4 separate regions of the Homo sapiens genome follow, and regions 2, 3 and 4 are each linked to region 1. The links come from fine-mapping of genetic effects on gene expression. A gene starts in region 1. Each other region holds a variant in brackets. All regions are shown on one strand. Distances are from middle to middle. Region 1 holds the start of AHI1 (Abelson helper integration site 1). Region 2 overlaps AHI1 (Abelson helper integration site 1). Region 3 overlaps AHI1 (Abelson helper integration site 1). Region 4 overlaps AHI1-DT (AHI1 divergent transcript).

Region 1 (8,410 bases):
GAACCATTTGAATAGGTTGCAGATATGAAGCCTCATCACCTTTAATACTTCAATATGTATTTTCTAAAACCAAAAATATCTATGTCACTATAGTCATCAAAATCAGGAAATTAATATTGTTAAAATACTACCATCTAATCCAGAGACCCCATTCAAATTGTTAGTTGTCCCAATAATATCCTTATAGCAAAAGGATTCAATTCAGAATCATGTATTCCACTTAATTGTCATGTATCTTAATTCTCCTTCAATCTAAAAACGTTCTTTAGTTGTTCCTTTGTCTTTCATGACCTTGATCTTTGAAGAGTACAGGTCTATTATTTTGTAGAATGTCCCTCAATTTGGGACATTTGGGTTGTCTGATTTTTTCCTCACGATTGATTCGGATTACACATTTTTGGCAGGAATGTCACAGAAGTGTATTCTAAGTGCCTCTAACCAGGACATACACGATGCTGATTTGTCTCATGACTGCTGATGGTAACTTCGCTCACCAGTGCCAGATTTCTACACTGTCAAGTTTTCTAATTTTTCTCTGTGTAATTAATAAGTATTTGCTGGAGAGATACTTTGAGACTATATAAATATTATATGTCTCTTAATACTCTCACCCTCTAGTTTTAGCATACACTGATGATTCTAGTCTGAATCAACTGTTACTATCATGACTGCCAAATAATGATGTTTCTACATATAACACTGTCTACATTCATTACATTTAGTTGGCATTTTTATGTAAGGCAGAGCTTTTCTTTATCCTGATTTTTCAAAAAAATCATTTATTCATTTTAGTATGGGCTCAAATATTCCTATTTTATTTAGCGGACTATAATCCATTAACATTATATTGGTGCTCAGATTGACCCAGATGTGGCCAGTGGTGGCTCCTTCAAGCTGGCTTCTGTGACCTTTTGATATGTTTCTTCATTCTGTATTAACTTCCTTAACTTCTGGTGCAACAAGAATTTTCCAGGCTCCTGTTCTAAAATCAACCATTTCTCCAAGGGACCCAGTTACTTTTAGTGAATAATACTGTTCAGAAACCAAGATCTAGGCACATGTGCTCATTGCTTCTAGTATACCATTACTCTGAAACCCTTTCAGCAGATAGAGCTAGGAAGAGCATAATAGATAGATACGCACACACATACAGACATACTTTCCTCTATATTTATTTTTACATATGTTTATGTATATATTGAAAACTATGAGTTGACACTGACATATTCAATTCCAATTCAACATCACCACAAAGGTCACTGTGGAATTCTTCCTCTCTCAATTTGTAACGTCCTTCTCTGTCAGTGAGAAACCTGGCTCCCATTAGACCCAACATATTTATTTCCTCACTCCCCTTTCATGCTTGCCACCTCTTTACTTGCCAAGGGGAAGGCAAAACAGCTGGTCATCGTTTTTTATTATTTCTTATCATTCACTCTTCCATCCAATCAATCACTAAGTCCTGACATTTTTACCTCCTAAAAATTTCTCAAATTGGTCCATTTCTCTCCATTCTGATTTTTCTTAGCCTTGACCATGCCACCTTTGTCTCTTACATGGCTTACAGCAACGGCATCTTAAATGGTATTCCCAGATCTAGATTTGCTTCCTTCCTGTCTGTTCTCCACCCTGCAGCCAGAGTTATCTTTATGATATTAAAATTTGAAAATTTCACTCCATAAAATTCTATAGTGGTATTCCACTGACCAATACTGTCTGGGTCTCTTCATAGCTTGTTTAACTCTCTTGTTTTGTCTCCTCCAAAAGCCCCTAGTCTCATTCTCTACCTTTTAGTTAGCCAACTTGAACTTTTTTTTTTTTTCTTCCAGTTCTTGTATTATACCAAACTTTCTTGTAGTGAACACTATACGCCACCTTCTTCTACCTGGAAACCCTTCCTAACCTGGACAACTCTACACATTATTTTGGTCTTTACTTAAATGTCACTTCTGCTATGAAATATTCCCTGACCTCCCCCACCCCACTGCACCTCTGCATGCTACTGTAAATGGAGAAGCAAGAGATGATAACAGGGTTACACATCCGCTAGTCTGGGGATTGTATTCTGAAACTAACACCCTACTAAGAATGAGCAGTCAGAGTTATAACTTCCCTTTGGAAAAGCAGGTACTTAAATGCAGTTGTGAGGACAGATGAAAAGTACATAAAACACCTACAATGCATACCTCCTAGAAGGAGCTCAATATATGTTATCCATTATTCATTCAACAAATGTTCATGAAATGCCAACTATTTCATAGACACTGTGGTAGATGCTGGGGATAGAGAAAATACAAAGTAAACTATGAAACTATAGAATGAGCATCCAAAGTCTAATATATAGAATGAGTATCCGAAGTCTAATAGGGAGTAGGAGTGTTTGAAGGAGTCAGTCAACCTGCTTAAGATTCAAAGGATGGACAACATTTGGCTGTGATGCAGGAGTGTAAAAGGAGGAATTTTCAGGAAGAGAGGACAATATGAGTAAGGACGGGGCGTGAAAGGCTATGGATTGTTTTTCATGGTACACATAATTCAATGTTGCATAAAACTGCATGGTACACATGATTCAATATTGCATAAAATTGGAACAAGAAGCTAACGAGAGATGAAACTAGTCAGGGAGATGGAGAATCTTGTATCCTAGGCAAAGTAATCATTTTCTCTTACAGATTGCCTTTCAAAAATTTTCAGCAGGAGAGTGCCATTATCCGATTTACATTTTTAGTCAGGTCATTCTGATAGCAGTGTGGAGAATTTAAGAGTCAAACTGGAGTCAGAGAACTGGTAAAGGGCCCATCTGAGGAAGTTAAAAAGAGAGAATGGATATGCTTTGGCATAAGATGCATTTAGGATACTCTACTGTTCTTACTAAAACACTGGGAGGATTGTGGTGGCTTACAGCAAGATAGAAATCTAGGAGAGTATGTTTAGAACGGAAAGTTGAACAGCTCAGTTCGGTACGCATTGGATTAGTAATCTTTCTCGTTGCTTCCTCACAGGATTTAGGGAAGCACAAGACATATAGTTTGTAAGGTGTGGCAATGTCAGTAAGAATGGAAAAGCTGGCCTCCATAAACTCTTACTGTACAAATGAAGCAACAGCTTACAGCGGGTGGCTGTAGGTACAGGAAATGGCCTGTATTCACGAGTGTATTCACGAGTCCACGAGTAGCGCATCTAGTATTTTTCCAGCCCTGGTGACTCAGAGCTGAAGATGGCGCCTGTGGCAGAAATCAGAAAAGTGGGAGGGAGCATTAGGTGTAGAAAAGGATGGCGTTTTAACTTTTGTTTTGTTTTTCACACACAGGGAGATAGCTCTAAAGGAACAGTGGATAATTTTTTCTTAAAATTTTGTCTGTAGTACAACTTCATTTTCCACGCCTTAAAACCATGTTTTCTTTTGTGGGCGCGATCGCGTGGGGAGTGACAAATCTGTTTCTTTGCCTCATTCATTCATTTTCTTATTCTGGGCGGCTTCCATGACAGCCTCCCCAGTTTTCCTTTGCCCAGTCAGTTTTTCCCTGCGCTAGCTACAATTCTAAGGCGAAAAGAGCATTTTCGGAGGTGAGGGCGGGGAAAACTCAAGACTCTGTAGGGGCACCCGCGCATTTCCGGGTCCCTTACCGCTCCGAGTGGAGGAGACTGTTCCCGCTCGCGTGGCCGGGGAGGCGGGAGCCCCCTAAGTTCCCTGAAGCTCGCGCCCGCCTGCGGCCTGAGGGCCCCCGGGCAGGCGCCGCACGGCCCCTCCTCCTGGAAGAAGGCGGTGGAGGCGCGGGGACGGGGCCGCGGTCTTCGCCTAGAGCGCGGGACGCATCGGTCGCCATGGGAACGGCGGCGTAGGCAGGCGCTGACGTCAGCAGGCGGCGCGCTGTCCGCACTGCGGCACAGAGCCGCGGCTTGCTTTCAGGACACGGGTCGCTGGCGGGTTAGGTGGCTGCGTGGCCGCCTCACTTCGCGCACGCGCCGCTAGGCTGGGGGAGTTGATTTGCACTGCTCCGGGTGTCGGCTCCGGCGGGACGGGCGGTTCTGCGTACCCCTCTCCGTGAGTACATCATGGGTGCGCTGGTGGCGGGAGCGCGGGCCGGGGTGCTCGGCCTGCCCGGCCCTCTCCTGGGCGGCGTGTCGGGGCTGCTGGAGTCCGAGAGCGCGGAGGCTGATAGCGTAGTGACCGACGAGCGTGGGCCGGGTGTCCCGGGGGAATGCGATTTCTGAGAGTCCTCACCGTACTTTTGCGCTTCTTTCACTGGTCTCCGTGTCCCCGGAGAGTTGAGCATGGTGCTCTGATAGAGAATTCAATCTTTGCCTTTCCTACTCCCGATTCTTATTTAAATGCTTTTAAATCAGATGTGTACTGAGTGTGTTTATTTCCTTTTAGAGTGTCAACCTGGGGCTGAATCTTCAACCTGTCAAAGCCTTCTTAATTATGTCTGAGAAAAGGTGATCAATTTGTTATATTTATAAGAGCCAAATTATATTAATAGGGTTGTTTCGAGATGCATAAAAATAGAACAAAAATGTAGACCATTTAAGAATCCTTATCAAAGGTTGTGCTGCGTTTAGCATTCCTGTAAAAACATCTATTGTGAAAATAAAGCTTTCCCCTTTCTTTTGAGAAAGAGATGCCAACGATTTTTTCACCTGTTGCATTAACAGTTGCTGTTACTGCTTGGGCGTTAGGAGGAAGATTGCTTCTTATGAGTACTCTGGGAAATTTTTTAAAGAATGCTTGAAAGAAATTCAAATACCAAAAGTGTTTTTAAACCATACCTAGAATCTTGTTTATGAGGAATAATATTTATGAAGTTAGAATCTTGTTTACTTATGAAGAATCTTGTTGATTTATTCATTGAATTTTGTATACAGGATTTTTGTTTGTCTTTTTTTCCCTTGCGATAACATTTGGTTAAGGAGCGAATTATCAAGCCTCTCAGTTTTTTCTCCCAATGATATTGAGCCACATATTGGCTGATAATCAGGTTGTCTGTAAAATAAAATGAGATGAAATGTAATCCATTTAATTTTCCTGTGTAATATCTCTTAGACGCTCCTGTGAAAGGGTTTGTGAGGGAGAAGTTGTAAAATAATGGAATATATAAGAATCAGAGGTGTCTTTTAAAGTCCTATCTGATTTTTTGCAGAGGTTACTAATCAAATATTAGCCGTTAATTCTATCATGTTTGCTGTAGTACATATTAAGATTTAGAGATGGCTGAGCGCAGTGGGTCACGCCTGTAATCCTAGCACTTTGGGAGGCTAAAGTGGGTGGATCACTTGAGGTCAGGAGTTCAGTATCAGCCTGGCCAATGTTGGTGAAACCCCATCTCTACTAAAAATACAAAAATTAGCTGGGTGTGATGGCCCACACCTGTAGTCCCAGCTACCAGGGAGGCTGAGGCAGGTGAATTGCTTGAACCCAGGAGGCGGAGGCAGCAGTGAGCTGAGATTGTGCCACTGCACTCCAACCTGGGCAACAGAGCGAGACTCTGTCTCCAAAAAAAAAAAATTAGAGATGATTTCTGTACTGTATTTGCTGTGTTATCATTACATAATATTAGTATTTATTAGTTTAGTTGTGTATTAAGCTGTTAATAGTAAATAAGTATATGATTTATATATTTTATTTGTAATTATTTACTTATTTTTAATACAATAATAATGGACATAAAGTAATTTTATTGCAATGTACTGATTACTTTGCTTTTTGGTATTTTCTCTTCTCCTTACAGTACTAAAATAGGTGCCATTTTAAATTCCCAGACAAGGAAAAACCAAGGATTAGAAATTAAGTAGCTTGCCCAAGGCCACACATCAGTAAGTGGTGACACTAGAGCTCAAGCCTGAGTCTTTTTTACTCGCTTTGCTTTTGCTTCTCTTCACTTCGCTTCTCTCTTCTTCTCCTCTCTTTTCTTTCATAGTGGCAGATACATAACTATAAGAGAGCATTGGCTTGGTCCTCCAAAGCTAGCAGTTTGGTGGGAGTTACAGAACATTTTACCAGGGTGAAAATTCAAGGTTGAGGTAGAGGGAGCTACAAAGATTAAGGCACCCTGGAAGCACAGAAGAGAAGTTCTTAAATGCCCTTCAAGGTGAGAATGCTCTCTAGAGAAGATATCATTTGCCTTTAAAGGATAGTGAGGAGTTTGTTAGAGAGACAAAGGAGGAAGCACATTTTTCAGGGGAGGGGATATGTGTGTAATGATACAAAAGCAAGAGAGAACTTGGCACACGTGAAGGCCTGCAGGTAGTTTCACATGTCTGGAACACAGTGGATGTGTGAAGGGGACATTTCATAAATGGCCTTGGACCTCACTGGTAAGGACTTGATATTTTTTTCAATGTGCGATTGGGAGCTAGTGAAGAATTTTAAGCGAAGAAACGACACCATCACATTTGAATTTTAGAAAATTACACTAGTTGCTGTGTAGATGATGATTTTTTTTTTAAGGGAAAGGTGATAGCGGCGTGGAAACAATCTTAAAACAAAAAGCATAATCCTTCCACAGTGTTTTTGTCCCTCAGAGTTACTGTCTCATGTCACTGCCTTTGGGGGTGATGGGAAGACAGTTGGAAGAATTCTGTAAAGAATTGTCTACATGTCCCTTCTACAGGTGTCACCTTCCATTCATTCCTTAGCCCCAGCCTGCTAAGTTTCTGCCCCTCTATAAACAGCTTTGACACACGTGACTTCCTACTTGCAGATTCAGTGGACTTTCTTCAAAACCTCCAGCCCCTTTTGATGCCACACAGTATATAGGCAACATCTCCTTTAAAACTTGGGTTTGCTTCTGTAATGCTTCTATCTCCCAGTTTTTCACCTATCTCCCTGATTTTACTTTATATTGTAGGCTCACAGGATTCTCATTGGCTTTTTATTTTCTTGGAACTATCATATTTATAAATAACTCCCAAATCTTCAGCCTATTGTCTCCCTGCTGGATTAGTAGATTGCCTAACAAACATAATATGATTATATACGTAAACACACACACACGTGACAGTAATAACAGTTGTTGTTTTTGAAGGGCTTGCCATGTGCTAGGCATTGTGCCTAGTATTTTATTTGCATATTCTCATTTAATCTTTATAAAAACACTGTGAGTGATTTACTCTTATTATTGTGAAAGATTAGGAAGTTGATATCCATAGAGGTGAATCTGCTGGCAGATAGAACTGGTATTTGGATCCAAGGATCTGAAAATGGAGCTGATGCTTGTAGCTGCTCAGTGCCCTTCAGATACCCAACTCAACATGACCCATACTAAGCTCAGTGACTGCACCCTAACAACCTGTTACAGTTATAGCTAACATTTATTGTTGCTTCTTCTGTCTACGGTACTGTTCTAAATCATTTAACCCTTACAACAACCCTTTGAGTCGGCACTGGTAGGGTGTTTTTATAGATGAGGAAACAAAAGTCACGCAAGTGACTATGGAAACTAATTCTAGGACATGGATTTTAAACTACTGCCCTGTACTGCATTATATTACAGTGTAATGATACTACTAATCTACTTATTCTAGTTCTAGAAACATGGGAATTATCTCCGATTCTTTCTCCTGCCTCTTCATTAGTTATTTAATCTTTCTAAAATATTACCTCACTCCATCACCTGGAGCGCACTGGTGCAGTCTTGGCTCCCTGCAACCTCCACATTTCAGGTTCAAGCGATTTTCCTGCCTCAGCCTCCCCAGTAGCTGGGATTACAGGCACCCACCACCACGCCTGACTAAGTTTTGTATTTTTGGTAGAGATGGGGTTTTACCATGTTGGCCAGACAGGACACAAACTCCTGACCTCAAGTGATCCACCCGCCTTATCCTTCCCAAGTATTGGGATTACAGACATGAGCCACGGCGCCCAGCAGGCTTTTTTTTGATGAATCATAGTCATAATATAGGTCAGCTTTTTCCTGGCCTATTAGATGACCATCGAGTAGTATAAATATTAAATTTTTATTTGTTTTATGATTTTTCTACTTCCGTGCTCTCAGGTTTCAATTACTCATGCTGTCATTGCACTTGCCTTTGCAGCTTCTCTTTTCTAATTTAATATAGACTAGAAAGTAGAAGACTAGATTTATTAAATTTATAACTGCTAGAAGGAGTAAATACAGGCTCCTATCACTAAAGTATAGGAATTTTTACTCCATGGATTTAGTGATGTCTGTTTTGACTGGGTGCCACGTAGTTGTTGCCTAAGTTAACTGACATAGTTAGGTATGTTTACATAATCATTCCTTTCTTTTTAGAATTTCTTAGACATTTCTGCAAGAGGAACATGAATGTGGATGTCCAGGGAATTGGAGCATTAACCAATAATGCCTTGGGCCCAGTGTGGTGGCTCACGCCTGTAATCCCAACACTTTGGGAGGCTGAGTCGGGCAGATCATATGAGGTCAGGAGTTCA
Region 2 (8,410 bases), 200 kb after region 1:
TAGATTATATATCATATCAAACTCAATTTCCCACAGTATACTTTAATATGAAGTTAATGTTTCAGATTCTAAAGGAAGTATCCGATGCTCAGGGTAAAATTTGGTACCCTTGAAAGTGCTTATTGTTTTTCTCACGAAGGTGCCATTAATAAAACAAGATATACTGAACACATTTTGTAGATTTAAAGAGCTTTCAAATTCAAACTCTTGCATACAGATCAATGTGTATTACTATGAAAATATAGAGTATACTATAAAGAATATGAAGGAAAGATGCAGGCTAAAAGATATATTTAGAGCTTAAGTAATATACCACATTGTATTGGGAGATTAATTTAAACTGATTCACAACTGATTTTTTTTTTTTTTTTTTGGTCACATACCTGAAAGCTGACTTTACTTATAAATGAGTGTTTGAACTCTCTGGAGAACTACTTCCTTGGTTTTTCATGGGAGCAAATATATTGTCCTGATAGACAATATATGTTCAGGACAGGCATAGATATTCCTGTTCAGAACAGGCATATTCTCTCCCCATTCAGGAAGTTGGTGGGTTTTCAGCATGTGAATATTGACTGTGTTGTCTTTTCTCATTTTTTACTTACTACTTGTTTTTCCTCTTCTTCCACAGCAATCAATCAATAAGAACAAGTCCCAGGACTTCAGACTAGGCTCAGAATCTATGACACAGTAAGCAACTTCTTCAAAATAATTTGCAGTGATAAATGGTTGGGGTTTTCTTTTAAGGATAATTTCTCCATTTCTTATTTTTATAACATTATCAAACTATAAGTTAAATTTCAGATAGTTGATTTTAAAGGAGTTTAGCTTGTTTACGATTTTTTTTTCTTTTTTTTTTTTTTTGGAGACAGAGTCTTGCTGTGTCACCCAGGCTGGAGTGCCGTGGCACAATCTCAGCTCACTGCAACCTCCACCTCCTGGGCTCAAGCAGTTCTCCTGCCTCAGCCTCCCAAGTAGCTGGGATTACAGGCACGCACCTCCGCACCCAGCTAATTTTTGTATTTTTAGTAGAGACAGGGTTTCACCATGTTGGCCAGGCTGGTCTTGAACTCCTGACCTCAGGTGATCCACCTGCCTCGGCCTCCCAAAGTACTGGAATTACAGGCATGAGCCACCATGCCTGGCTGTTTAAACAATGAATATTTTAATAGTTGGACTCTGAGAATGTGTATTATTACAAAGTTATAAGAAATCCTATTAAACTAGTATCACACAAAACTTTAGAGGACCTATTTTGTCATTTATTTTTATTTGAGTACTATTTTGAAATAACATTAACTGAAAACAAGTGAACGTGTATTAAAAGTAAAATTATGAATGCCTTTTTTGAAGCATTAAGAAAAAAGCTAATAAGCAGAACATTGTCATTATATATTTTCTATAAATGCTTAATGTATTTGGGTAATTTATTTTGAAGTATTTATTTTAAAAGAACTCTGGAAAGTTTTTATATTTTTAATTAGTACTTGCTGTGTCACTTAATGTACCCATCAAAAGTCACTCTTTTGCCTCAAAAAAAAATTTTACATCAAAACATTCCCAACATATTTCTCAATTTTTATCATTTTCAGTTATCTTTTGGACCTAACATTATGTCCAAACTTTATATTCAAATTACATTACTAACAAAATATAACGGAAGTGTGACAGCATTGAACAGCTTAGCTATCATACCCTCCCATCCCATCACCACCACCCCCACGTACATTGCTGGGTGCTTGCTTACTCACACATGCACACAGACAATCCCTGCTGAGCTTCCTTGGGGAAAATATTTGTTCAAGTTAACCCTGCTATATGCTTTGGCAATTTGAAGAATAATATGTCTCTTCCAGTACAAAAATTCTGATTCAGATGACAGTTATTTACAGGAATTGTCTAATAAAATCATGCAGCATTTAACAAGACAGTATTTCATTGTACAGATGAAAGACAAATGTAATTTTTAAGAGTCACAGAATCATGATCTAGAAGATACCTTAGAAATTCTTTCTATAATCTCTCCAGGTTTTATAGTTTCTTGTTTTACTGTTATCAGTCAGATATGTTTTTAGTTCCAGTCTCTGGACATTTAAAATTTTACATAATAGTAGATAAACAGTCACTGACCCTAAGGAGCGTATACTCAACAACAAAATACACTAGAAACAATAAGCACAGACTGTTTCAACAACCAAAAAAAAATGACCATGTTTAACACATCATGGGAACAGTGCTCTTGGTGTCTTTGAACATATTTCATAAAAATTTTTAGAACTTTTTACTTAATATTACGCAAATGAAAAAATGTCTCCTACATACTCCTCACTCGGTCTACATTTCATACCAGTTTTCACGAGATACAGAGATCCATGTCATGCCCTCCAGATTAAAGTTCAATAAAACCTCACAAACATCTCAGCTTCTAAAGGATGTCAGTATAGCTCAGCTTCTCTTTTTGAAGATGCTTCTGAAAATAAAAATTTTCATGAGAAGTTCAGATATGTCTAAATGCCCAAGTTCATCTAAAGCTTTTGGACTTTCCCTACTTACAATTTCTTAGAAGTAAGGATGAATTAAGATAGATTTCTCATGACTTGAAAACTGTAGGCGAGTTGATGGTGGAAACACTAGAGCCCAGCATGTACAAAGAAGTCATTTCTTTGATTTACCTAAATGAGTTTCTTGTACCCAAGTAAATGGACAGAGGCTAATTTTTTGTTTCTTTGCAGCCCTGCCTTTGAGTTTGTAACTTTTGCTTATTAGTTGGTTGACCAATATATGTAAATGAGCCACATAGACAGCCTCTTACTACTTTCCACTTGAATTTCTTGTCTTGTTTTTTTGTTTTTTTTTTTTTTTGAGAAATGTCAGTCACTTCTATGCAAGCAATTTATACACATTTTAGTAAAGTTACATTCTCTTTTTTAAGGTATCTAGAAGAAACTTCTATTGGTTAATTTAACAAAAGTATTTTCCTGAAAATCTTAAACTTCTACATTTTGTACCGCATGCCCTGTGATGTTCTTCATATATTATCTGCTGCCTAAGTCAGAGTTGGTAATGAGGCTGCTATAAATATGCTGTCATCCTTAACAAGTAGTATTAATGTTCCATAGTTAACTAATATAGCCTGTATTGAATTTTGTTGGGTTTTTTTTAACATAGCAACCTTTATTTCATTAACAGCTTTGTTCAGAGAGAGGTTAATTCATATAGTTAATCATATTAAAGTCTTATTAACCCTGAAATCTGAACTAAATGAATGAAATCTCTTCTTAATATGGTGCGGCTATAAATGTCAATTCCAAGCATCCTGTCACTCCACTGTATATTTTTTTCCATCTTTATAATAACCATTCCAGGCTCTTTCATTTCTCTTTATGAGGAGGTAGTTTATAGTCCACATTTTTTTTTCTAAAATAATCCTGCTACTTGCCACTTTTCTTCTAAATTTTTACTTTTATTATCCGTTTTCTGCCTTTTTTTAATCCTCATCCTACCCCCAATTTCTAAAATTAAAGGCATTTATTGTCATGTGTGTGACCTCACAGTGTGCCCAGCAGTGAGCTAGATGCATTGAGAGATATTAAAGAAGCATTACAGGTCAGATGAGGAAATAGAAATAAGAAGCATTTAGAAGGCAACCAATTATATAATTAGGTGCAAAATGATGTGATGCAAATTGTAATTACAGAAGAGAGCTGAATGAGAAGGCAGGAGGAATATGCATAGCTAGAGAAGGCCTCTAGATAAAGGTAAGGCTTGAGTTTTTGTCTGCCTCATGGGAGGGCATTTGGATGTGATGTGGGAAAGAACTAGTTTAAAGGAGCATACGGCTATGAAGAGAGGGGAGAGAGTGGGAGGAGACTGACTGA[T/C]TAGTGTCTTGGAGTTGGGGAATTGCAGTGGGAGAAAAAAACAGGATAGAGATTGTGGCTCTAGAAGAATGCAATGTGAGTGTCTTGAGGGCATCTGATGATTGGAAGGTGGGGCCAGGAGACATGTCTTGCTGTATTTGCCCAGCATTTTACATGAGCCTGAGCAAACATTATTTGTCTGTATCAAGAATTTGGTCTTGTCCTAGACCTCGATGCTACTGCCATAAAGAGGAAGGGTCAGGATTAGCCTTTGAAGGTGTCAGTAGTTCATTTGTGAGCATCAGTCCAATTGGGAAAATGTGATCATCTGCTCTCTGTTCTAGGTGCTATACTAGGTACTGAAATGCAGTGATGAATGATATGATACACAACTTGTACATTGTGGAAGTGCCCAGTGTGGCAAGGAAGACAGACACGTAATAGTCATTTGCTAAATATAGATTTGCTGAGCACCTACAGTGTCACACACAGTGTTCTAGGCACTGAGGGTACAGCAGTAAACAGATAAAAAATCCCTGCTATAAGGAGCTAACATTTTATTTACCTATATGCAAAATAAGTAAAATGTCTAATTATACCAGATGTGTGCTACAGTATGGAGAAAAATAAAGCATGGGTAGGGGAAAGGAAAGGAGACATGAAGGTTGCAGTTGTAAATCGGAGCATGAGAGAAGGCCTGAGAAAAGTGGAAGGAGGCAGGGAATTGAGTAATGTGAGTATGTAGAACACAAGTGCAGCGGGCCCTGAAGCAGAAGCATACCTGTTACCCTCAAAGAAAAGTAAGGAAATTAGGCTTTTTAGAGTAGAGTAAGAAACTGGGAGAGATTGGATAAAATCAGAGACAGTAATAAGACCTTATATACTATTATAAGACTTCTGGCTTTTACACCAAGTGAAGTAGGAAGCCATTAAACACAGGAAGTGACCTAACAATTTAACAGAATCCCTCTGACATTTAAGATAAGAATAGACATTAATGGACAAGGGTTGAATCAGAGAGACCAGTTAAAATAATATTGAAATTATCCAGGTGAGACTTGGTGGTGGTGCCTCGGAAAAAAGTGGGAGCCATGAAGTTAGTGAAAAGAGGTCAGATTTTATGTATGCATATATATTTCTAACTTATAAAGAGATACACTTGATATAAAATAAATTGCGGCCAGGCGCGGTGGCTCACGCCTGTAATCCTAGCACTTTGGGAGGCCGAGGCAAACGGATCATCTGAGGTCAGGAGTTCGAGACCAGCCTGGCCAACATGGTGAAACTTTGTCTCTACTAAAAATACAAAAAAATTAGCCGGACATGGTGGCAGGCGCCTGGAATCCCAGCTCCTCAGGAGGCTGAGGCAGGAGAATCGCTTGAACCCGGGAGGTGGAGATTGCAGTGAGCCGAGATCGTGCCACTGCACTCCAGCCCGGGAGACAGAGTGAGACTCCATCTCAAAAAAATAAAATGAAATTAAATAAAATAAACGGTTTAAGTTTCGACATGGGTAAATACCCATGAACCATCACCACAATTAAGGTAATGAGCATACCCATCTCTCCAAGACTTCTGATGCTCTTTTGTAATTTTGCCCTCCTACATCTTTCTTCCCTTCCCTGAGCCACATCCCCTGATAATCACTGATCTACTTTCTCTCACTGTCTAGAGTTTTAAATACCACAGTTTGTTTATTCATGTACCTTTGTGGATGGACCTTTGAATCATTTCCACTTTGCGGCTACTACAAATAAAGTTAATGTCAACATTTATGTACAAGTTTTTGTGGCTACTACAAATGAAGCTAATATCAACATTTATATACAAGTCTTTGTGTGAACATAGGGGTTTTTTTTGTTTGTTTAACATCATATCACTGAAAGAGGCATTGAAGAAGGTTATGCTTTCATTTTTCTTGGGTGACATCTTGAAGTAGAATGGCTGGACTATATAGTTGGTTTATGCTTAACTTTTTAAGAAACTGCCAAATTGTTTTCCATACGGTTTTACCTTTTTACAGTCCTACCAACATGTATGAGTTCTGCTTCCTCACCAATACTTGATATGGTCAGTCCTTCTAATTTAGCCATTCCAATACATGTAGAGATATATCATTGTTGTTTGATTTTGCATATCCCCAACAACTAATGATGTTAAGCATCCTTTGATGTGCTTACCTTCTATGCATACATCTTCTTTGGTGAAATTTCTGTTCAAATCTTTTGCTCATTTGTAATAGGTTATTTGTTTTATTAAATTTTAAGAGTCATTTATATATTCTAAATATGTTCTTTATCAACTATGTGATTTTCAAATATTTTTCCTGATCTGTGTTTTGCCTTTTTATTCTTTTAGCAGTGACTTTTGAAGAGCAAACTGTTTTTTACTTTGTTGAAGTTCCGTTTACCAAAATTTTTCTTTTACAAATCATGCTTTAGTATAATATCTAAGAAACCTCTGCCAACCCAAAGCCACTAAAGTTTTCTCTTATATTTTCTTGTAGAAGTTTTATAATTTTTTATTTAAGACTATGAATTGTTTTCAGTTAGTTTGTATGTGTGATATGTGATGTGAGTTTTGGATCAGAGTTTATTTTCTTTTTTTTCTTTTTCTTTTTTTTTTTTTTTTTTTGCATTTGGAGATCCTGTTGTTCTAGCATCATTTGTTGAAAAACAACTCTGTCTCAACTGAATGGCCTTTGCACCTTTGCTGAAATCAGCTCTTAATATATATGTGGGTCTGTTTATGGTCTATCTATTATTTTTCTATTTCTCTTTTGGTTTTTTTTGGGGGGAGGGTTGTTTGTTTGTTTGTTTGTTTTGAGGCAGAATCTCCCTTTGTCATCCAGGCTGGAGTGCAATGGCGTGATCTTGGCTCACTGCAACCTCTGCCTCCAGGGTTCAAGCAGTTCTCCTGCCTCAGCCACCCAAGTAGCGTACACCACTACACAAGCTAATGTTGGGTGTTTTGTTTTGTTTTGTTTTGTTTTGTTTTGTTTTGTTTTGAGATGGAGTCTTGCACTGTCACCCGGGCTGGAGTGCAATGGCATGATCTCGGCTCACTACAACCTCCGCCTCCCGGGTTCAGGTGATTCTCCTGCCTCAGCCTCCTGAGTAGCTGGGATTACAGGTGCACACCACCACACCCAGCTAATTTATTGTATTTTTAGTAGAGATGGGGTTTCACTATGTTGGCCAGGCTGTTCTCAAACTCCTGGCCTCAAGTGATCCACCCGCCTCAGCCTCCCCAAGTGCTGGGATTACAGGTGTGAGCCAAGGCACCCAGCCCATTATTTTTCTATTCCTCTGTCTTTATGCTACTACCACATTATTTTAATTACTGAGTAGTTTTGTAGTATGTCTTGAAATCAGGTAATATTAGTCCTCCAACTTTGTCCTTTTCAAATTTGGTTTGGCTATTTAATATTTAGGGTTCTTTCCATTTCCACGTGAATTTTAGAATTAGCTTATCAATTTCTATAGCATATTCCAATTGATATTGCATTTAATCCAGATACTAATTTGGAGAGAATTGACATTTTAACAATATTCAATCATCTGAGTCATTAACATGATATATCTTTGCATTTATTTACAACTTCTTTAATTTCTCTTGGTAACATTTTTTAGTTTTCAATGTATAGGTCTTGGACATACAGTGTATAGGTCTTTGGTTGATTTATTCCTACATGTTTCATATGTAAATGGTATTGTCGCTAGTTTATAGAAATACTACTGATTATTGTATGTTGATCTTGTTTTATGCGAACCTACTAAACTCACTTGTTAGTTGTAATAGCTTTTAGTGGATTCCACGAGATATTCTGTGTAGACAGACAATCGTGCAAATAAAAGACAGTTTTCTTTCTTCACAATCTGGGCGCCTTTTCTTTCTTTCTTTTTTTCTTTTTTTTTTTTTTTTTTCTTTTTTTTTTTTTGCCCTGTTAACACTGGGTAGAACCTCTAATACAATGTTGAATAAAACTAGTCAGAATAGACATTCTTGTCTTGTTCCTGATCATGTGGGAAATGAATAGGAGCATTTGATCTTTTACCATGAAGTATGATGTTATTCTAGGTTTTTTATAAATGCCCTTTATTAGGTAGTTTCCCTTTCCTAAGAGTTTTTGTCAGGAATAGATGTTTGATTTCTCAAACATGTTTTTGCATTAGTTAAGTAATCTATGGTTTTTGTTTTTAAATTTCTTAATATGGTGAGTTACACTGATATTCAAATGTTAAACCAACTTCGCGTTCCTCGGATAAAACCTACTTAGTGGTGTGTTATCCTTTTTATAAAGGATAGTGCTTGTTGAATTTGATGTGCTAAAATTTCCTTTAGAACTTCTTGCATTTTGTTCATGAGAAATATGGGTCTGTAATTTTTTTGTAACATCTTAAGCTGATTTTGATGAGGAGATAATGCTGGCTTCATGGAACAAGTTGGGAAGTATTCCCACCTCTTCAATTTTCTAGAATAGTTTGTGTAGATTTAGTATTACTTCCTCCTTGTGTAATTTCTATTTCTTTATTCATATTCTCTATTTCATG
Region 3 (8,410 bases), 210 kb after region 1:
TGTCTTGTGGGGTAAGGTCCAGGTTTTTTTGTTGTGTTTTGTTTTTGTTTTTTTGAGAGGGAGTCTTGCTGTGTTGCCCAGGCTGGACTGCAATGGTGCGATCTTGGCTCACTGTAACCTCCACCTCCTGGATTCAAGTGATTCTCCTGCCTCAGCCTCCCGAGTAGCTGGGATTACAGGCACCCACCACCACACCTGGCTAATTTTTGTATTTTAGTAGAGATGGGGTTTCACCATGTTGGCCAGGCTGGTCTCAAACCCCTGACCTCAAGTGATCACCCGCCTCAGCCTCCCAAAATGCTGGGATGACAGGCATGAGCCACCATGCCCGGCCACGGCCCGGTATTTTTATGAATCTTATTCCCCAGACATAACATACACACAAACACTAACCTAGTTTCATACTTGTTTTCATAAGCTTGCTAAGAAGAATGTTTCTTTCTCTTTTCATCACAAGAGCCTTTAAAAAGGGCTTTGCTTCGTTACTTTCTTCCTCTGTTAGATTACAGAGATACTTTATGAGAAGATAGAGAAGGAATGGCTTTGCATTTATCCTTGTCTTTTGGTTAGATGTCTTCTCCTCCCTCTTTCAGCACATCCCTGCTGTCTCCTAGCTTTCAGGTCCTTTTGCTGTTAGCGTTCATCAAGCCAGTGTGCCACTCTTGATTTTCCTCCCATCGTCAGGAGGAGCCGCCAGTGTCCGAAGGGTGCACATGACCATCTTTATTCTGTCTCTTTTCTCCCTTTTATGCGCCATCTTTGTCATTCTCTATCCAGTGTGTTTCTTCCTCTTCTGAGTCTGAATCATTTCCCTCAAAGATGTTATCTTTGCTGCCTACTTTAGATTTTTCGAGTTGAATTTCTCTTTGGGTTCTTCTCCTGAAGGTCCGTCTGGCTTCTCTGTTTACTTCTCACAGTGCAGTCACCACCTGATTGATTTCACTTGTCCTACATCTTCTGCACGTGCAGGATCCATCTCACTAATTTCCAGCTGTTCTTCTCCCCTTCTCCCCCTTCCCTTTTCTGTTTTTCTTCTTCTTTTTTGTCCTCCCACTAACATGAACTCTTCCTCTCACTTTGTTTTGCCTTATTCTTCCTGTAAGATCCTTTACCCTCCTCACTGCCTTTTGCAGAAGTTTATATGTCTCTCTGTGACTTTAGCCCAGCCTTCATTGAAACTACTTTCTTTTCCATTTTTATCAGATCCTAATTTGGTGAAAGTTTTACGTACTTTTTCTGTATATGTACAGGGAGACTTTTTTTGCCCCTAGTGGTATTATACCTTGGCATGCCGTATTCTGTACCATTTTTATACTCAACTTCATGTGCATTCATGAGCTTCACTAGAACGTATTTTTGGGCTTCTATATATGATACAAGCTTACCTGGAGTAGCTCTGTTTAACAAATTTAAAATCAAGAAACATCAAGTGATAAAGAATTTTTGCCCCTCATGTGTAAATGTGTTTTATATGAAAAGATAGTGCGACCATTGATTTAAGATTGGGCCTGTTCCTTAAAGCACAGGTGTCCCCTACACCTCCTGTGCCCCCAGGGAAAGCCCTTCAGGAATGGTTAGCCATTGCCCTTTCTTGCCACAGTGTGCCAGCTGTCACTTTTCTCAGGAGTGGTCGATGGAGTTGACTGCTACCTTAACCAGATTTGCCATCGTTCTGAAACTGCCGTGTGTTTTCTAAGGACAACCAGGTGTTAAGCCTTTCTCTTTAGAAGAAGGACAGTAACCTTTCTGTGTAAGTCCAGAACTTATCAATGCTGTATGAATGATTGCATTAAAAAATGTTAGGTTTAGCCCCACTAATTTATCTCACACTAGTTGTAGTGCAAATACTACATGCTGTCTAAGGAAGCAACTTCTTGTTTCATCTGCATATTGGTTCTTGATTTTTATGAATTGTATAATTTGTTTTACATCAAAGCCACATCTGGATGCTTGATTGTTACTATCTTGGTCAAAAATGAGACAGCCCATTTTTTAATTGATTTGAAAAATGTAATAACCTAATTATATAAAAGTAGGCATAGCCATAGACTAAATGAAAGAATGCTATTTAATAAAATTATCTGTATCCTTCCGAATCACTAACCCTGAATATCATCCATGAGGACTTTTTTTCCCATTCAATGAAGAATTTCATATACTCTGATTGCCTGCTCTTCATTTCTGGAAGTTACTTATGGTTTGGAGTTTTTAGTGTCTATATTTGGGGATTTTATTTCTTTCTTGCTTACATTAACCTGTCAATGCAGGAGCAGGCCTTAAACAATTGCTAATGATACAAAAAGATGCTAACAATGTTTGAGAGGCAAACTAGAAGATAGGAAATTAGTATTTTGGTCTTTTTTAGTTGTGTTTGTATGTGTTTGTGTTTTACACAATGTCCTTTATTACCTGTGCTGTTGCCTGAGCACACTAAGATTTGGTTGTAGTCAGAAGACATTATTCAAGTTTATTTAGTACATTTTGTGTATTTTTCTTTCCAGTAAAGAATTGAAGAAAAGTTAAGAGCTGCCGAAATGCACAGAGGTGAAAATGACAAACCAAATGGAATTTCTCTTCAGAGTTCAGAATTTTCAGATACTAAGGAGGAAGAAAGGATCCACTACTTCTTGTTCTTATGAATGACTCTAGAAAAATCAGAATCAAGTTGTGGGTGGAAAAATCAACGTGGCCTTTGAGTTCAGTTGTTATAAACCATTGTGACTATTGTTGGTCAAAGTATTGGTACTTATATTGTTAGTAATTGCATCATAATTACATTACCAGTGTTGGAAAACTAATGAAGAAAACACTGTAATTGCTACTCAGCAAATGTGAATAAAAGGTGTTTGCGTTATTAGGATGTCTGTTAAGTAATCATTTAATATTATTATATTGGTAATGGTTGTATGTGTGATGCTATGCCCAGAATATGAAGTATCTGTTTTTGAAATTCACTTTATTTAAAAGATAAGCAGCTGACTGGGCACGGTGCCTCATGCCTGTAATCCTAGCACCTTGGGAGGCTGAGGCAGGTGGATCACCTAAGGTCAGGAGTTCAACAACACCAGCCTGACCAACATGGTGAAACCCCATCTCTACTAAAAATACAAAAATCAGCCGGGTCTCATGGCAGGCACCTGTAATCCCATCTACTGAGGCAGGAGAATTGCTTGACCCAGGAGGCAGAGGTTGCAGTGAGCCAAGATCACGCCATTGCACTCCAGCCTGGGGGACAGAGCAAGACTCTATCTCCAAAAAACAAAAAAGATAAGCAGCTTTAGAATATGGCGCATTCAAAACAGTCTCAGTAACAAAGACATTAAAAGAAAACAATTTACTTTCTAATTAAAATTTTGTGTTTCTTAAGATCAAATCATATAGGTAACTTCATAGACCTAAATTAAAAGTGATTTTTGGCTGGACTGGCAACAATGTTCCCAATGTCTTTACTTTTTAAAAAAGGCTTTTCATATTTAAGCACATACCTATTTTGTAGACTTACATTGTTTAATATTTATTTTAATCTTAATATTTTTACATTATTATATTGCATTATTT[ATTTT/T]TTCTAAGTTCCAGAATAATAGTGTCATTATTATAGACTATATGTTTTGAAGTTTGATATTATAATGGGATATTCATTTTTTGTTCTTTTCTTGACTCCTTTCTCAAGTGTGTGATAAGGTCTGCTGATAAAATATTTAACCCCAAGAAAGTGAAAACTAATATAAAATTAGAAAGACCTATCCAAATTAGACAGTCAATTCCATTAAAATAAGAAGTGAGAAAAACAATGTTGGGCATTGAGGTGTAAATTTTGCCCAGATGTATACCCAGTGTGAAATATCTTCTAATAAAAATATATTTGGCTCTTATCCCTGCACATGTAGAGGCATAAAAATTGGTAAACATGTCCCGCTGTGTAGAACTTTAAAAAAAAGGCATTTTTGAAAGTGTTGAGTGGCACTGATAACTGGTGAAGCCTACAGCCATCCGCCCAAAAGTCTGTTCTGATGGCACTGAGTTTTCATTGTTCTGGATGTATAAGTCTGTGTGTCAGGTACAGCTGGGCCCAGCCAGCTTGAGTCACTCTTGTACAAGCTTGTTTTTTTCTGTCTTGTGAATGCACTTGATAATTTAAAAATAAAAATATCTGTTTCTCTGCAGTTTCAGCTAATAATTTTGAGATATGTGTTGATTTTCTGATTGAATCACCAAGAATTTCAACAAGTTTAGAAATAATTTAAGATGAATGAAAAATATGTCAGGGGGAGCTAAGCATTTGCTAAGCTCTTGATGTTTATATGAAAAATAAAGGGTTGTTTTTATATTGCAACTACTAAAGAGAAAAATAGCAGTTGAAGCAAACACCAGGAAAATTTGGCTCTACTGAAAGCCCAGTCCTTTTCCCCTTTGTCTCGCTGACAAAGTAAGACTAGGGTTATGTTCATGAATAGATTAATAAAAGATGTTTCTTTACCACACAATCTGAGATGAGATGGGGTGGGGGAGATCATGACAGTGCCCTCCAAGCAATAGATCCAGCTGATAATCAAGCAGAAAATCAGACACCAGAATCCATTTGATGATGTACGGCATTAAACATTTCCTTATAACAAATTGGGTTTGTTTTATCTTTATTCTGAAAGTACTGAATTTTATCCCATGTCATCTCTTTTCTCCAAACAAGTAACAATTTGACACTGTCTTCTTCTATATCTAAATAATATTTTTAAACCATTGTTGGAAATGCACTGCCCAGTTATTCATCCAACTCTGTCTTGAAGATTAATGTTTCTTCAGTATTGAAATGATACTATGTATAGGACTTGGAAAGCTAGAATAAAAATCAAGTTTTTAAAAGATTTAAAACATGAAATATTTTACACAGTGAATGCAAATTTATGTTTAAAATGCATATTTTAAATGAAATCAGTGCTTTTAAATGGCTAACGCTTGGTACTTCTGAAATCTTGTGCAGGGTTTCTATCACATACAAATGAATACTTGACCTTAATATTATCTTTAAATTATAGAAGAATTTAATTAAAGAAAGATGTCTTTAGGAAGCTCAGCAAGACTATATTTGAGAAATAACTTACCATTTTATAGCTTCATGTGACATGTTGTCACTTTAGTCATATATTTAGCCACAAATATTTTTAAGAGTTAGGAAGTTCTAGAAACTATAACAAAAGTTTGTGACCTTACACTTCTATGTGTATTCAAATGATTTCCATCTGATGGCCATATCTGTTTAGTGAATTATGGAAACACTTTTAAGCAATCCAAATGTTTTAAGCTATATATTTGTTCGTTTCTATTTAATTGAACTGTACCGAAAATAGTCCCCAAATCCTCACTTTATTATGTACATGACTTCATTTACTCTTCACATCAAATCTATGAGATAGATAAAATCTTCCCTGCTCTAGAACTAAGGAAACCAAGTTCTGAAGGTTAAGTAACTTCTCCAACTGCACAACTCCAGCCACTGCTAGTTGCAAATGGAGATATCAGACTCCACTGGGTGATCTGTAAAGTACTGGATCTCAGTTGCTGTGGAGAGGAAAATGCTGATATTTGGACATGACAACACACACAAGAGTAAGGAAGCAGTTGGCATGTGCCTATGACCACACTCAGGGACTAGAAACATCTCAAATGTTTGTCATTCAACAGTGACCTAAATAAAATAAAATATATCTGAGTGAACTTTTTTTAAAAAAAACTGATCATTTGTTTATCATAATTATTTTAGTAAATCTTTACTCCATACTATAATTATGTTTCCTTAAGAAACAGATTCTGTAGAATCAAACTAATTACATGTACAGTAACATTTTATTCAAGAAACCGAAAAGGCGCCATTCCAGTCATATATGAGAGAATAAAAACATCAAGAAGCATGTCAATCAAAAGGCTGTGTTGACTGGAGAACTCATTCTATGGATGGACACAATTATATGCAGGAGAATTGAATGTCAGCATCATTTAGGGTTAACAATGGACTAACTAGGCAAAAGCAGACAGCTACTCTCTGCCGAGGCCCAGGAAGCAAACTTGGTAATGAGGCACTTCATTCTTCATATCCTTCTGCTCTAATTATTGTGAATAGGAAATACTTTAAGCTAAGGCGGGAACTGGATAACAAAAACATTTGTTTTGTAAACACAAAGAATGCTATTTTTCTAATGATCCCCTTCAAATCTACATCAAGCATATGTTGTGAGCAGTGGGTTTTCTAAAGTTGCTCTTCTAACACCTCAAATTCATACTGATTATAGATGGGTTATTTTCGTCTCGAAAAGCTAGGGAGGCTAATGCTGCTAAGAATCAATTTTAGTTTCTCGTCAATCTAAAAAAGGGATATGTACACCACACATAATTCATGTTCTACCTCTTATCACTTAGGTCAAAATGCTCCAATACATACTTCAGTGTTATTTCTAAAAGTACTAAGCAATATGATTTTTACTCACTGTAGTTCATTTCTTCATAAAAATGATTTGAGCCCAATGAAAGAATAGAAGAAAATTTAAGAATGGTTTCCTTATAAAACATTTATGTAAGTAAACTCAAATATTGCCAATCAAAGGATGATTTCTTAACATTGCTTGGAGTGGAGATGTTAGTGAAGATAAGAAAAAAATAGTCTGAAAGGAGGAAAAAGCAAGAAGTTGAGGAACATAACTTGCTGCCAGGGCAAAAATAAGCAACTGAAGCTTGCGCAAAGCGGTCACAAGACTAAAGGAAGAAGGTTCCCTAGAGAAAAGTTTGGTAGCTTCAGTTTGGTTTTTTGATGTTTTCAGCTGAGAATCAGTAGTTAAGGTGTTTTTTTGGTCTTAAATTTGTTCACAGGGCCATTCTGTATAAATGCTCCACATAACTTTTCCTGAACTATGATTCTTTAATAAAAGTTAAGCACAGTAATGTGTTTAACCATCCCTGCCTATTATACAAAAGTTAATGTTCAGACGTGTCTACTGAAGCTACTTTTAGCAACTAAATATTTCCATGGTGGTAAAGAAATATCAGTAAAATCTATGCACTTTAAGCACATCGAATTCTTATACTTATCATGTGTGCAGGCAGAGTACATAATAAACTAGTCTATAGCAGCTGTAAATTTCTGAGGATTTATCTAACCACAAATACATTGAAATGGGGAAATGGGTCTATATTAAACTATGCAAGATGCTGCTGGAGCGTTGCCATTTCTGCAACATCCTGTAATTAATTTATCATGACAGGTCTGGCAAACTGAAACATCCAATACACTTGCGACAGACTGTTATACTATAGTTGTTAGAGATCCTGTAGTCACATTAAGTGAAGGTAGATTTTTTTTTTGCCTTCATACATGAATATAGGGCTGTTAATATTTAGAGTACCCTGTAGCCAAGGACAGATTGTAATTTTTGAATTTCAAAATAACAATATATAGAATATGGAAAATATCCCAGACTGAAATCATGAGTTCAGTCTTTTCTCTGCCATGTGTGGTCTTTTCCTGAAGAGGGACAGTCCTGGGAAGGGGAACGATACAGTTTGGTCAGCGCTTCCCATGCATGTGTCCCTCGGGCTAGATAGGATGGATTCTCTCCTGGAAGATTTGAAGATCAGTTCTCTCTTGGTTGTCTCTCAAACACATTCTTTTCCTGTAAGCCAAGCTCACAAGACCAGCTTCTGTGTGCCAGCCTCTTCTGGAAGCTGCAGTCCTGCCATTTGCAAACTTAAAGTACAAATGATACAGAAATTATTCCTGCTCCAACCCCATCCAATCCAGAGAAAGAAGAAAATGTAAAGCTTGTGGGGTTTTTGGCCAAAATAGATCCTATCTAACAATATGTTATTTGTTGGTTCATATCAGTGTGAAAGACAGAGCCGCTCTTGACTTGATGTGTGTAATTTGATGCAGGTGAAATAGTGACTGACGCTAAGGATGGAGCTATGTAGTAAACGAGGCTTCTTGCTCCAGGAGTGAAGTGAAGTTACTTCCCATGAAAAGTGAGATCTATATTGTATGACGGTCCACAGCCTTGCCCATTTCCTAGAGAAGATCAGTTTCTCAGTCTACAAACAAGTGGAGTCAAGGGGGTCTGAGAACCTTAAATCTGGACATTTCAGTGAGAAGGAAAAGATGTTGGGGAAAGGTCCCAGGGATGGAGAATGAGTCCTGCTCAGTGGGAAAGAGGTGAGAAGCTGGGCAAGGGGCCTCAAGTGGTCCCAGCCTGCTTACTACAGGTTAACTGTAAACACTTGACTAGTTGTGTGTTCTTTGTATTTTCTTTCTTTATCCTTACTATTGGAAACGGATCCTGTCTCGGAAGACCTAAGAGGTTTGTTGCTTGGGATTAAGTTTTAAAAGAAAAGCATCCAGCAGATCCCCAAACTGAGTAGCTCAAGGGAA
Region 4 (8,410 bases), 31 kb before region 1:
TGCTGAGCAGATCTGAGGCGTCAACTTATAGGTGATAATACATACTGTGAAATTAAATGAGAACCACATCCTGTCTGCCCCTATCTGAAGAAGCATATGCAGAGTAATAAGAGCAATGGGCTGAAAAAAGACCTCCAAGAGTACCAGCATTTTGAATTATGCAAAGAAAAAAGATAGAAAAAGGGGACAAGGAAGCAATAGGCAGAGAGTTTCGATGACAGAAGAGGGCATTAATGAAATAAAGAGGTGGTTTCAAGAAATGGGTTAGTATGCTAAATAAAATAAATGGATTTAAAAATAGTAAGATCAATTATGGTTAGCCAGATATTGTCAGCGCAGAGGATAGAGGAGGAAGCCCGATTTTAATAGGTGAATGAATGGGGAATTCAAGAAGTGGTGGTGGTCAAGTGCAGACTATTCTTTCTGAAAACAGCTGATAAAGGTTAGCTGATACAGACATGGCTAACATTAAAGGGGCACACAAATTCAAAGATTTTTTAAATGGGAGTTCCATAAGCCTTAAGAAAAGACAGATGAAGAGAAGCAGAAAAGTTGAAGGCATATAAGAAAATTGGAGAACAGACAGAATAGTATCCTAATCAAGATCCTAACTGGAAGGCCTGGCCTTGGGAAGAAGGCAAGAGAGCTTCCACTGAGATTGGTGGGAGAGAGTCAAGGATGATTCTGGTTCAAAATTTGAGGGAAGGTATGGGTGTTTGAAAGTTTTCATTCTTCAACATCTCAATATTGTCAGTAGAATAAAAGGCCAAGGCACCAAGAAAAAGTTAAAAAGGATCTTAAGGGGGAATGGCAGGAATCTAAAGAAGTTCTTGGGAAGGGTGGCAAGAATTACTAACCAAGAACAAAGCATAGGACAGTCAAGCATTGATTAGACTCCAGCTAAGTTAAATATTATATTGGCCCCTAGCAAATACCAAGTGACCTTTTTCTGAGACTGTTCAACAGCCAAGGTATATGCATAGGAAAGTCCAAGGTTTCAGAGATTTGGGGATGTTGGTACAAAAAAGTGGTTCCATCAATAAGTTATAGGGTTCAAGCTGGGGAGGGATATAAACAAGAACAATGTGGTAGATAAACTGGGGTAACAGAGCCATGAGATAAGAGATGTCTGTGGTGTCAGAGAGACATCTATGGAGAGTAAGGTCTGAGGAGAGAGCTGGAAGTAAGAGGGCAGGACAATTGTAGGGAATAACAAAGTTCAGAGTATATCCACAGTTGCCAGTATTTTGTGGGGTGACAAAGGTATGTGAAAATCACTGGAGTTGGAGAGGTGGAAGAACCTTTGAAGTCAGGGAAGATAATAACAGGATTTAGCAGAGGATGAAATTGTGACCCAGGTGTCAGAGTCTTGAATGGAGAAAGTGAGTGACCTAGAAGAATTGTTTTCCAAGGAGAACCAAGCATCTGTCATTACCAGGTAGTCAATGGAGCCCTCTTTTAATACACACAGGATGTGCCATGGGCTTCCAAGTTGCGGCTAAAATATTTGGGGCAGTGGAGGGAGTACCATTCGTGTTGATCCAGAGAAGACAGAAAACCATAAGAGTAAGAGAGAATAATGTTTCAGAGGGATTTCTATTTTAGCCCATTATCCTAAGTGACCAGAATGGAAGGTCATTGAAATTAGTCTAAAAATTTTTTAAGGGATCTTTAGTATTAGATTTCAACACATGAACATTTGACTTGGAATGATCTAATTCATATCCACCAGGGAAGTCTGGAATGGCTCAGGCAAAGCTTGCCTTGGATTTTAGATTGGTAGAAATTACAATTTCACTATACTCCAGCCACATCATCCATCTTTACCTTCAAACTGGCCAAGTTCATGTCCTCCTCACCCGTCTAGTCTCAGCTGAAGTTTAACTTTGTGGTAGGGCTTTTTTCAACTACCTACACTAAAGTGGAAGCCACTGCTGTCATTCTGAATCTCACTACTGTTTTCTATTTTCTCAATCACCTCTGTTACTTCTTTGCTGTTTTCTTGCACTTGGATTTCACTTCATTCTACTCAATAAATATTTATTGAATGAATGTTTGTACTCTTTGGCAGCAAAAATATACCAAGGGATTTACAGACCATTTTGTTTATTTCAGAATAGCCGTTGACTTTACGTGGCCAAATCATTAATAATAGAGTTAATCTAACATATTAGACGTTTAAGTACAATAAGCAAAAACAAGTGAGTCAATCACGTTGACCCTATTTAACCCTTAAAAAGTAAAAAAAAAAAAATTATTGCTATATATCATAGTGCTATTATTACTACATTTTTATTAAATGTGAGCACCAAACATTTATAGGTCTCTACTGTGCCCAAGGCAAGTAATGGAACATAAAGATTAAAAAAAGATGGTCTTTCCTATCAATGAAGAGTTAACAGGGAAGATGAGACATACTTGTACAAGAAAGATATAACTAAAATGATACTGAAGCAGAAGTTAAGTTAGATTACCCAGTTCAGGTCCCCGGTTCCCCACCTGGTAGCTGTTCGTCCTTAAGCATGATACTTTTCCTTGAAGCATCAGCTTCAGCAACATTTAAATAAGACTAATAATGATACATATTTCATAGGGTTCATGTGAAAATTAAATGACACTTAAAAAAAATGAAGTGCTTAGCAAAATACCAAACATATAACAAATATTCACGGAATGCCGACTGTTAGTGCTTATGGTCCAACTAAAGGATTCTTTGATTTAATTAACTGTTATGAAGGTCTCTTTATAACTTGTAAAGTTATAAAGTTATAAGTTTGTAAACTTGAAAAAATATTTTCTGGGATTACCTCTGATCATTACAACTCATTCCTATTTAACTAATTAGTTGCATTGGACAAATAGTAATGTACATCTAAACATCATGATATACGCCTCAACAAATAAGAAAATTATTATTCATAAAATAACATTACTGAATAAAAAGTGATGAATATGGGAATGAGCAGCCCTCTGAACTAACTTCTCATCAGCCTAACTATCAGGAAAGTAGGGCTTTTAATGAAAATGGAGAATTGTTAATAAAACTGAGAACTTTTACTAATCTGTGGAAATTTAACCATAAGTTTTAACCACGAGAGTTAAGCTCACTTATCTGCAGAAATATCTATCGTGTAATATTAGTTACACTTACTTGCTCCTGGCACTATTCAAAAACAAATGCTTTCCTCTACAAGGTAATTATCATTTGATCTATAAAATATGGACTTTAGCCATAAATATCTGGGTCAGAAAGTCTTCTAAAGCAAAATACTGTAGGAAATATGTTGGAATTATGTCAGAATTATCTAAAACTTGGATCATTTATTAGTTACTTGAGCAAGATTTCTTCCTGGAAAGTTATAGCCATATAGATTTTTATGTTCACAGATGTAACATTTGAAGTGTAAGATCAAAAGATTGGTATTTCTAAGTCAAACATGATCATACAGATATGTAAAATCACCAAAGAGATTTATCTGGTACATTCCACATTTCAGTCTGTTTTCTTACTAACACATATTTGAAAAATAAAACCCAAAAAGTCCTAGTTGTTCAAGCATGTGATTAAAATTCAACATTAAACACTTTCTGAAAGAAATCTGATAGTGACACTGTTGGCCTGGTAATCTTATCCTATATACACATGACATGAGAAAAATTACCC[CTG/G]TGTTTATCTTCATTATAGTGAGGACATTAGAAAATGTAAATGTATGTTGTAACTACTAAAACTCTGGAACAACACATGTAATCTGAAAAGTCAAAGCTGATTTATTCCAGGCACCATTTAACAGAAATGACACATCAAAAAGTAATACAATATTATGAGATTTTTATTGCAAATAAGGTTCAAATATATTTTCAAAGGGAAGAGTTAGAAAAGTGAACATCTTTAAATGTCTTCAAGATTAATGGTAAGACATTCTGAATTGGCCATGTTACAGAATAGTGGAGGAATTATATAACTTACTTACAGTCTGCACATACAGATGCTATGGGTTTTAGAGACAGTTTTCATGTTGGCTATTTATTTAGACAGTGTTATATTCCCACAATAATAATGTTTTATTTCATCATCCTGTTTGAACCAGGTTTAAGCATGCAGCTGCAGCATGTTGAATTTTTAAGAAGCAAAGTCAGTCCAGTTTCATGAGTTTGGGCTTTTTATTCCATATTTGAATTTATTTTTCCTGGAAAGGAAAAATAGTTATAGCAGCACCTGGTATAGTTCCATGAACATAGTGGAGGCTTAATAAATATTTATCACTGTTGAAGTTAGAAGAAACACTGATTTGCACGCTGCATGATGTTGAATTAGGACCATATTGCTGCAAAAAGCATAAACATTGGGTGCGGCATCTGAATCTTAGACAATTTTTGAAAATGACTATTTTGCAGGAGGCCTAATCTGCCACAGAAAAAAATAAAATGTTACTTATAACTATTATTGAGATGCATTAAAATCTAAAGAACTGTTTAGAAAATCAGACTCTACAGAATGCTGGAAAGTGTTACTTTTTTGTATTGCGATCTGATTGGCCTTGGCAGGAGAGCCAGAAGAGAACCCCAGCTGTAGATCTGTAGGAGAGAGAGAAGTAAGCCAAGACTGGTGGGGATAGGGGAGGTCTGAGGTATATGACTATAAGCTCCCCCAAGTCTCAGCATCTAACAGGACATACCAAACCTGAATCCAAACCAGATTAATGGTGACAGTCACCATCTCAAGCCAGGTGGGAGCATGGCACCAGGAACTGGTTATGTGGGAAATGTTATTATCCAACAGATGACAGTTTTATGTTCGGAATGGGAGAGGTTGTCTGGGTTGTAATAGGGCCTTAGCCAGTGGGCTGCAGAGGGGAGAAAATTGGGATAGGATCCAGATCCCCCAGAGAGAAGAGGTTGGCAAGACTAGTCAATTCGTAGGCCCAGACAATTTGGCTGGAGTTCAGGGCTAGAATCCGTTACCAGCAAAGAATAAAGTGCAAACAAAGAACAGAGGCAAGAATCTAGAAACACAGTGAGGTTAGGGTTGGGATTGAGGGGCTTACTATTTATTGGTGGCCACATAAATGTTTACATAGGGCTCCCTCAATAGCAGGCTTAGGGCGATGGATGAACTCCAGACTCTGATTGATAGAAATGGACCTCCTAACATCCCGTCAAGCCTAGGTCTCATTTGAGTAACAACTTGATGGTGCTGTGTTGTAGGTTGACATTATGTAGTATTGGCTGCTGGGCATGGCTATGCAAGAGTGGTCAGTTTGGGGCACTATTTTTTTATTCTGTAATAAGCTTAAATAAACCCAAAACTATATTAAAATTGACCATTTGTTTATATGCTAGATGTCAGCCCCACAAGGGGAATTTTTTCTTTTTTTTTTCATTGACATATAACATGTACCTAGCTGACATATAGTTAGTATTTAACAGGTGTTTGTTGAATTGAAAATGAATTAATCAAATATATTCTAAACATTACCAAAGGGTTTGCAAAATTTGGATGTGATCCCCTAATTACACTGTATTTTAGTTTCTTTAATCACAATGATACTGCAATTCCAGATCAACAAAAGACAGAAACTGATCAAAGCGTTTTCCATACCTTTATTCCACTAAAACAGAAGATAAATATTATTTTATTTATCAAGAAACCAAAAGTAGGGGGTTTTGACGATTGGTTAACTTTATGTGTCAAGTTGACTGAACCATGGCATACCCAGATAGTTGATCAAACATTATACTGGATGAGTTTAACGTTGAAATTGATAGACTGAGCAAAGCACACTGCCCTTTCTAATGTTGTGGGCCTCATCAAAACAATTGATAGCCTAAATAGAACAAAAAGGCTGACAGTCTCATAAATAAGAGGGAATTCCTCCTGCCTAAATGCCTTCAAGTTGGGACATTGGGTTTTTTTTTCCCGCCTTTGAACTTTAATCAGCTTTTCCTGGTTCTTGGGCCTGCTAGCCGTTAGACTACACCGTCAGTTCTCCTGAGTCTCCAGCTTGCCAACTGCAGATATTGGAATTTGTCAGCCTCTGTAACTGCATGAGCTAATTCCTTATTATATACTTATATATACATTCTATTGGTTCTGTTCCTCTGGAGAATCCTTACTAATACAGGGAGTTGCAGCCCTGGTTAATTCAGTAGCTCAACAGCATCAAGGACAAGATTCTTGCCATTTTCTTATTCTGCTGTCTTTAGCATCTTGGCTTGCTGACTTACACTGGTTCTCCTCATGGCCTAAGTGCCTGTAGTAGCTCTAGGCATCACTTCCTCCGCCACACACATAAAGAGTCAGAATAAAGTTACTGTTTCTTCAAATATGTTTCTGTTTAAGAGCAGCCTTTCTGAAGCAACTCCAGGCTGGCTTCCCCTTATCTTTCATTGACCAGAAAGATCACATGACTCTTGTTAAACCAGTCTCTGAAAAGCAGAATAGAATCACCATGATTGGCTAAGAGTAACTAAATTTATCCCCTTGAACAAGGGATCTGATTCACTTTCCCTGAGCCAATGGCCACTAGCAGGTGAACAAGTGAACATGTTTTAACAGCCTGAAAGAAGAGGGAAATGGGCTTGAAAGAAAATACCTTCTTGCTATTCCTACCCTGCATTTAGCCCTCCATTTGAATGAGGCAGGAATCTTGAATTTTCCTAATGGTCCTGAGCCCCAAAACTGACTTTCCCAATAAGTGATGAGGAGGTTTAGGAACTTAGAGTCCACAACCAGGATCTCTACTTGCAGTTTCAGAACTGAAACACTCACTACATGTCTTAGGCCATTCCTGCTACTGCAACAAAATACTTTACACTGGGTAATTTATAAATAACAGAAAATTATTGCTTACAGTTTTAGAGGCTGGAAGGTCCAAGATCAAGGTCCCAGGAGACTGTGTCTGGTGAGGGTCTGTCTCTGCTTCCAAGATTATACCTGGTTGCTGCATCCTAACATGGAGGACTGGATGAACTCTGTTTCCCCATATGGTGGAAGGGATGAAGGAGATGAAAGGGGAAGCAGATCTCTGAAGTCTCTTGTGTAAGGGCATTAATTCCATTCACAAACCTGGAGCCCCCATGACCTAATCACCTCCCAGAGTCCCCACCTCCTAATACCATCACCTTGGTGATTAGGTTTCAACATATGAATTTTGGAGGGACACGTACACTCAAACTATAGCACTCCCCCAGTACTCATCTGATTCCCTTCTTGGGAATTGACCACAGTTGAAGAAAGGGCCCTCATTCATCAAGTTGCAGTTGGGTAGGGTTGGGAGACTGGTCTGTGCAGGAGCATAAAGGCACAGCCCCCTTTGCCTCTCAAAGCTGGGGTCATCCCAGCCCCAGTCTTCCCCATAGGATTAGTTGAGGTGTTTATTATGGCAGCGTTGTTATTCATTCTCTCCCTCCACCCAATTCTGTATTTTTTTACTCCGCTCTATCCCCATCTGTTCACTCCCACCCCAAGGATGGATCCCAAGAGCCTTCCTAAATAAATCTCCATATTCAAACCTTCTCCTTAGAGCCTGTTTTCTTGGAAATCCAACCTGAACAGGGGCAGACCACAGAGGGGCCTGACCTGCAGTTTATGTGACTATCAGGTAACTGCTCCCCTAGATGGAGACCACGATCTGACCCCTTCTCCAGGGCAGAAATTGTGGCCTGTGGTGAAATATATTACAAATTCTACTTGCTTTAATTGGTGTATAAAAGTTCAAATTTAGGCCCAAATTTCTCCCTAATCTAGCTACAGATCTATAGAGATATATATATATATATATATATATATATATATATATATATCAAAAAAGGACATGTAACAGATTTCTAAATAAAAGCTTCAAGCAAATAATTTGCAAATGTTATTATTCTCCCTTTGTGCTAATCTTTTATAAAAAGGCATAGCCACCTTTGCATAAGTCACTTTAAAAACAATAAAAAAATACCGGGCGCGGTGGCTCACGCTTGTAATCCCAGCACTTTGGGAGTCCAAGGCGGGCGGATCATGAGGTCAGGAGATCGAGACCATCCTGGCTAACATGGTGAAACCCCATCTTTACTAAAAATACAAAAAATTAGCCGGGTGTGGTAGCAGGCGCCTGTAGTCCCAACTACTTGGGAGGCTGAGGCAGGAGAATGGCGTGAACCCGGGAGGCGGAGCTTGCAGTGAGCGGAGATCGTGCCACTGCACTCCAGCCTGGGCAACAGAGCGAGACTCTGTCTCAAAATAATAATAATAATAATAATAAAATAAAAAATAGATTAGATCCATCTGCTACCTCATGAAGGAAAAATTATTACTAGGCAATGTCTAGGATCTTAGGACTCACTTGGAGATTTTTCAGAGGATATCCCATAAATAACATCTATAATATGCAAGGCACAGTCTTGGAAATACAAAAATGAAAAA

Evidence for each region.
Region 2: its variant is fine-mapped to the expression of AHI1 in fibroblasts (GTEx, PIP above 0.99).
Region 3: its variant is fine-mapped to the expression of AHI1 in lung (TOPMed, PIP above 0.99). The same link has a PIP of 0.9 or more in whole blood.
Region 4: its variant is fine-mapped to the expression of AHI1 in skeletal muscle (GTEx, PIP above 0.99).

The regions. Positions count from the first base shown.
Region 1 is chr6:135,493,218-135,501,627 of GRCh38, reverse strand. AHI1 (Abelson helper integration site 1) reads left to right here and starts at 3,888. Exons shown (of 29, transcript NM_001134831.2): 1 at 3,888-4,045; 2 at 4,379-4,440; 3 at 5,730-5,814. AHI1-DT (AHI1 divergent transcript) reads right to left here and starts at 3,827. Exons shown (of 6, transcript NR_152842.1): 1 at 3,628-3,827; 2 at 3,111-3,224. RefSeq lists silencers at 3,548-3,767, 4,118-4,177.
Region 2 is chr6:135,292,780-135,301,189 of GRCh38, reverse strand. It overlaps AHI1 (Abelson helper integration site 1), which reads left to right. Exons shown (of 29, transcript NM_001134831.2): 27 at 632-690. Among named protein-coding and RNA genes, the nearest start is that of MIR548A2, 58 kb to the right of the region's middle. The variant T/C (reference allele first, on the strand shown) is at 3,879.
Region 3 is chr6:135,279,739-135,288,148 of GRCh38, reverse strand. It overlaps AHI1 (Abelson helper integration site 1), which reads left to right. Exons shown (of 29, transcript NM_001134831.2): 29 at 2,502-4,617. The coding sequence ends at 2,504. Among named protein-coding and RNA genes, the nearest start is that of MIR548A2, 45 kb to the right of the region's middle. RefSeq lists an enhancer at 5,235-7,589. The variant ATTTT/T (reference allele first, on the strand shown) is at 3,559.
Region 4 is chr6:135,523,754-135,532,163 of GRCh38, reverse strand. The region is part of intron 2 of AHI1-DT (AHI1 divergent transcript); the gene reads right to left. Among named protein-coding and RNA genes, the nearest start is that of AHI1-DT, 30 kb to the right of the region's middle. The variant CTG/G (reference allele first, on the strand shown) is at 3,665.